Linked DNA regions of Homo sapiens: region 2 is linked to region 1. Evidence: fine-mapped expression QTL. A gene starts in region 1. The other region holds a variant in brackets. All regions are shown on one strand. Distances are between the middles of the regions.

What was found. PIP is the estimated chance that this variant, and not a neighbour inherited with it, causes the effect. A credible set is the group of variants that fine-mapping cannot tell apart.
Region 2: its variant is the best candidate, but not a certain one, in a credible set for the expression of GNL3L in whole blood (TOPMed, PIP 0.81).

The regions. Positions count from the first base shown.
Region 1 is chrX:54,528,737-54,531,642 of GRCh38, reverse strand. GNL3L (G protein nucleolar 3 like) reads right to left here and starts at 1,424. Exons shown (of 16, transcript NM_001184819.2): 1 at 1,224-1,424. RefSeq lists enhancers at 1,019-1,278, 1,289-1,348, 1,799-1,848, 1,503-2,023.
Region 2 is chrX:54,430,841-54,433,746 of GRCh38, reverse strand. No RefSeq gene overlaps it. Among named protein-coding and RNA genes, the nearest start is that of TSR2, 8.1 kb to the left of the region's middle. The variant C/T (reference allele first, on the strand shown) is at 1,352.

The DNA.
Region 1 (2,906 bases):
GCTATTCTGGACCCTTCTATGGAAGGTGGACTGTGACAACTTTCATCTTTTATGCTGGTTGAAGTCAGCGGCACACTAACACTGAAAGAAATAGGGGCTCTGGTTCTCTGCATGGGTGGTGTGTGGAGGGGGCTGGCAATGCAGCTATAAATTAATAGATCAGCCCTAATACTTGGGGGTGGGGGCGTCTGTGATTCTACCCTGGGTGGAGAGAAACAGATCTGAGCTCCACTACCTTGGGTAAAGGGGAGAGACCATACGCACTGAACTGCCAGGTAATCAGCGATGTCACTCCCTCTCAACATTACAGGGAGGGAGACCTGCATATCTGCTCCTGTGGGGTATCTCCCTTGCTACATTTAGTGATTCTAAATCTTTGGGGGAGGTAGGGGGAGGTAGGGGGATGATCTGTGTCTACCTCAAAGGGAGAGGAACACATCTGAGCCCCTCTACCCCCACGGCCCCTCAAGGGGCAGACCTGACTGTCTCTTCATGGATTAAGGTCTGTTCCTGTTTGCTTCGAAGCATGTTGGGTGCTTCGAAAAATTACACATTCGGTAAAACGGGGGCTACGGAAGTAGGGATCAGGTCTGATTCTCCACAATGGGGACTCACTCTAACCTAAGAGGAGGGGGCAATTGGCTTAGTTGTCCATAAGCTGAGGCCTGTAACTGCAACCACTTTGGGGACGGGTGAGTTGGGGAGCGATACTGAGGGCTCTGAGTCTACGCGTATGGGGAGGAGGTGCCCTCCCTCTGTATATTAAATGTTTCTAAGCTCCTCTATGCTGGTATGGGGGCAGATACATCAAAGCCTCTGTCTGTCCTGAGGAGGTGCCTCGAGACGGCTGTCTAGAGCCAAGCCAAGGAAGTGCCTTAAGTCGGGAGAAGTCTGCGCTGCTCAGCTGGGTGGAGGGAGATGTCTCTACACGGTTGGGGTGGATGTCCCCCATGCCTTTGGTGGGTCGACTCCTGTCTATACAAGGTGAATGCAGAATGAAGCCTCACTATCTTGAGGACGATCAACGCTTCACCACACAAGTGAAGTTTGTGCCTCTCTACACAGTGTGTCCCGGGTCTACACCTTTCTAGGTGGGATGGGGCAATGCCCCTCTCCCGGCAAACTCCACTCCGCGAAAAGGCAATTCGGCGCGTCTCCACGTGTGCCGCGATCCCTGCCCCTCTTCCGGTCCCTTCTACCCTGGAAGGGATCCTGCTGTTTACCTCTCTATTCCAGGTTGGCGGGCATCTCTGGTTTCACATCCAATAGACGATCCTAACTGCCCGGCCGTCTAGGTGAGCGCACATTGTGAGAAAAGAGGAGAGAAGTTTCTTACTTACACTTCCGGCGGGGATCTGAGAAGCGAGGGCAACACGACAACTCGGTTGAGCGAGCAGAAACTCTCGCGCAGCTAGGCTCCGACTTCCGGATCCCAGGCCGGCGGCGCCCGACTCCGCCCACCGTGCGGTCTCCGCGGGGGGGGGGGGGGGGGGGCGGAGCTTCTGACTGACAGCTCACGCCCGCCCGTCCCTTCTTCGCGACCACGCTGGCCCCGCCTCCTGCCTGCCCCGTAGTTAAGGAAATAGCGGAGGAGGGAGAAGGAGGACGGGGAAATGACCGGGAAGAAGCGGCGGGTCGACTGGTGCGGCCATATACCTTACTTGCAAGCCAAAATTTTGTCTGCGGGCATCTGTCTGGGGTTAAATATGCGTGCTCCCAAATCTCAATAACCAGGCAGTCACCACGCCCGAATCAGACAAGGGTGGGGGATGGTGTCTTTGTCTGCCTGGAAGATGGCGACAGCAGGGTGTGAGAAAATGGCCGCCTGGGTCACGTGTCTGGCCGAGTATTTCCCCACCTGAAGTGAATTGGTTAGCTATTCCCAACCACCTTCCCGGGTCCTTGAGCCCCAGACCATCCCTGAGCACTCCTAGCTTTTTCTGCATACGTTCAGATCTATGGCCATACCCAACCCGAGCTGGAGCAGGAGCCAGAACGACTAGAAGCCTCTCCCACACTAGAAGCCTCTCCCACCCTTTTGCCTTCTTCCCCTCCTACTCCATCCTTCCCTCAATCCCGGAGCAGCGTCTGCAGAAGGGAATGAATTTATATCTCTGGAGTGGGGCAAGTAGGGGTTTCTGAAGCCATCTCAAGGAGCTGGCTGGGAAGTGAGGTCTCCCCCACAAAATAGTAAATATTAGTCTGCAAATGTTTTCTTCTTGATGGTTTAATTCCAGCCCCTCCTCTTCCTCAAGCCTAAACCCTGGGGTGGGGCACAGAGTAGGTGGAACTCTGTGCCTCCGAGGGTGGGTTTGTTTCTCCACTTCAAGCACAGACGGGCTGAAAATGACTCCATCTGTCCCTTTATCCCTTACATAAACAGGACTCACTACCTCTCTACATCGTTGGAGGGCTTCTAACCTCTCATCCTAGAGACACATGAAATTCCTCTGGACCTGAAACCAGCCCTGACCACTTTCACCTTTCCCCCTGCATTTGCAATTTTGCTCTGTTTCTCTAAGACCTAACTCTTGTCACTTCGATGAAACCTTCTCTGACTTTCGCAGATGAGTTAGAAACCCAGAGCACCTTACCTATACAGCTAAGCTAGCACTTATCACAATACTGTAGTTGTTTATGTGACTGTGTCTCCACAGGAGGGTGAACTCCCTGAGAGCAGGGGCCATGTATCTTCAAGCTTTCAACAACACCCAGCACAAGACTGGTATGAGGCAGGCTTCAACAACTGTTTGTTAAATGGGTGAGTTTACAGGCCTGCACCACAAAAAATGGGAAATGGGCTGTTTAGTAGATGGCATTGGGAAATTTGGCTCTCCATGAAAAGAAATATAAAACTGGATCTCTATTTATTCCACCTAAGAGGGTAGACTGTGAATGTGAAAGGT
Region 2 (2,906 bases), 98 kb after region 1:
ACCTCAGGCTAAAATCTCCAGACTGGGCTTCCAATACCTGAGCAGACTGAGCTCTGAAACTGGCACTCACTCGGTGAGAGGCTTAGTCATATGTCAGAGAAAATATCAGGCTCCCATATCAAATCCTCTCCCAACTGAAACACTAGAATTAGTGTCTCAAGAGTGAACCATCTGGGCAGATTCCTTGAGTCCAGGAGTTTGAGACCAGCCTGGGCAACATGGCAAAACCCTGTCTCTGAAAAAAATACAAAAATTAGCAGGACTTGGTGGGACATGCCTGCGGTCTCCAAGCTACCCTGGAGGCTGAGGTTGGAGGATCAGCTTGGGCCCAGGAGGCGGGGGTTGCAATGAGCAGAGATGGCAGCAGTGCACTCCAGCATGGGTGACAGAGCCAGATCCCTGTCTCAAAAAAAAAAAAGAGTGAACCATCAACATGTAAACCCTTAACCTTAAAGTCATGTCCCCATAATGCCCATAATGAGCCTCTAGGTAGAGCCACGGGACTGAGTCCCCAAACTTAGCTCCTTGAAGGAGTATGGGGACTGGGACTGATATCCTGCAAATGGGCCCAGGGTGAGTTCCCAGAAGGACCCATCACATACTAAAGCCACAAACTCATCCCCCCTGCTGAAAGTGTAGACTGAGCCCATGTTCTGAAACAGCTTCCCTCAGACTGAAAACCTAATATCTGAACCTGGAAATAACATGCCCAAGGCCGGGCATGGTGGCTCACGCCTGTAATTGGAGCACTTTGCGAGGCTGAGGCGGGCAGATCACTTGAGGTCAGGAGTTCGAGACCAGCCTGGCCAACATGGTGAAACCCCATCTCTACTAAAAATACAAAATTTAGCCAGGCATGGTGGTGGGCACCTGTAGTCCCAGCTACTTGGGAGGCTGAGGCAGGAGAATTGCTTGAACCCGGGAGTCAGAGGTTGCAGTGAGTTGAGGTCGCGCCACTGCACTCCAGCCTGGGCGACACAGCGAGACTCTGTCTTAAAAAAAAAAAAAAAAGTGAAAAAATTAGCTGAACGTGGTGGCACTTGCCTGTAGTCCCAGCTACCCGGGAGGCTGAGGCAGGAGAATCACTTGAACCTGGGAGGCAGAGGTTGCAGTGAGCCGAGATTGTGCCACTGCACTCCAGCCTGGGTGACAGAGCGAGACTCCATCTCAAAAAAAAAAAAGCCCAAAATGAGCCCTAGAGGGAATCCCCAGAGGGAACCACCGGTATGCACCTATGGTAGCCATGAGACTTCATCTCACAGACCGTAAGCTACAGGGGATGAATTTAATCAAGGGCCCCAGCTGCTGTTCTGAAATCCACCCTTGTATTTGCGCAGACATTGCTTGCCAT[C/T]AGCTGAGTGCCAAAAACTACCAATAACTGAGTGCAGCAGGGATACTTTGGCAAATTTGGCTCAAAGAATCCTGGATAATTGCTTGAGCCCAAGAGTTCAAAACCAGCCTGGGCAACATGGTGGGACCCTGTCTATAGAAAATCAAAAAATTAGCTGGGTATGGTGTGCACTCCTATAGTCCCAGCTACACTTGGGAGGCTGAGGTGGGAGGAGTGCTTGAGTCAGGGAGTTCGAGGCTGCAGTGAGTCGTGATCTTGCCACTGCACTCCAGCCTGGGCAACAGAGTGAGACCCTATCTGAAAAAAAAAAATTTAATGGAAGAAAGGAGCAGTTTCTTAGGACTGCTTTTTTTTTTTTTTTTTTTTTTTTTGAGACAGAGTCTCACTCTGTTGCCAGGCTGGAGTGCAGTGGCATAATCCGGGCTCACTGCAACCTCCACCTCCCGGATTCAAGTGGTTCTCCTGCCTCAGCCTACTAAGTAGCTGAGATTACAGGCACGTGCCACCTCACCCGGCAAATTTTTGTATTTTTAGTAGAGACAGGGTTTCACCATATTGGCCAGGATGGTCTCGATCTCTTGACCTTGTGATGCACCCTGCCTTGGCCTCCCAAAGTGCTGGGATTACAGGGTGTGAGCCACCGTGCCCGGTCAGGACTGCTTTTACATAAGAGAAATAAAAGGTTTGAGCCGGATTCGATGGCTCACACCTGTAATCCCAGCACTTTGGGAGGCCAAGGTGGGAGGATCACTTGAGCCCAGGAGTTTGAGACCAGCCTGGGCAACAGGGAGACCCTGTCTCTACCAAAAAAAAAAAAATTAAAAAAATAAGCAGATATGACTAATTTACCGGCATGGCACATGCTTGTAGTCCCAGCTACTCTGGAGGCTGAGGTGGGAGGATTGCTTGAGCCCGGGAGGTCTAGGCTGCAGTGAGCAATGATCAAAACAGAGTGAAACTCTGTGTCAAAAAAAGAAAAATAGAGGTTTCTATCTTGTTTAAGCCATCATTATTTGGTGTCTCTTTGTTACATGCAATCACATCTGATGCCAGCTGAGCCCTCTTGAGTGAGCCAATGCCTGAGCTCACTCAGAACTCACTCGGAACTCCCGGACTTCTCTCAGGAGAGTGAATGCCACTGGGTGCGGTGGCTCACGCCTGTAATCCCAGCACCTTGGGAGGCCGAGGCGTGTGGATCATTTGAGGTCAGAAGTTCAAGACCAGCCTGGCCAGCATGGTGAAACCCCGTCTCTACTAAAAATACAAAAAATTAGCCAGGCGTGGTAGTGTGCGCCTATAATCCCAGCTACTTGAGAGGCTGAGGCAGGAGAATCACTTGAACCTGGGAGGCGGGGGTTGCAGTGAGCCAAGATCATTCCACTGCACTCCAGCCTGGGCGACAGAGCAAGACTCCATCTCAAAACAAAACAAACCAAAACAAACAAAAAGTCTGAATGCCCATGCTGAGCACCCAACAGTGAGTGATCCAGACAGAGCTCCTGACTGACTAATACAATGAGATTGATCTCAGGTATACCAGTGCCTGAACCTCTGG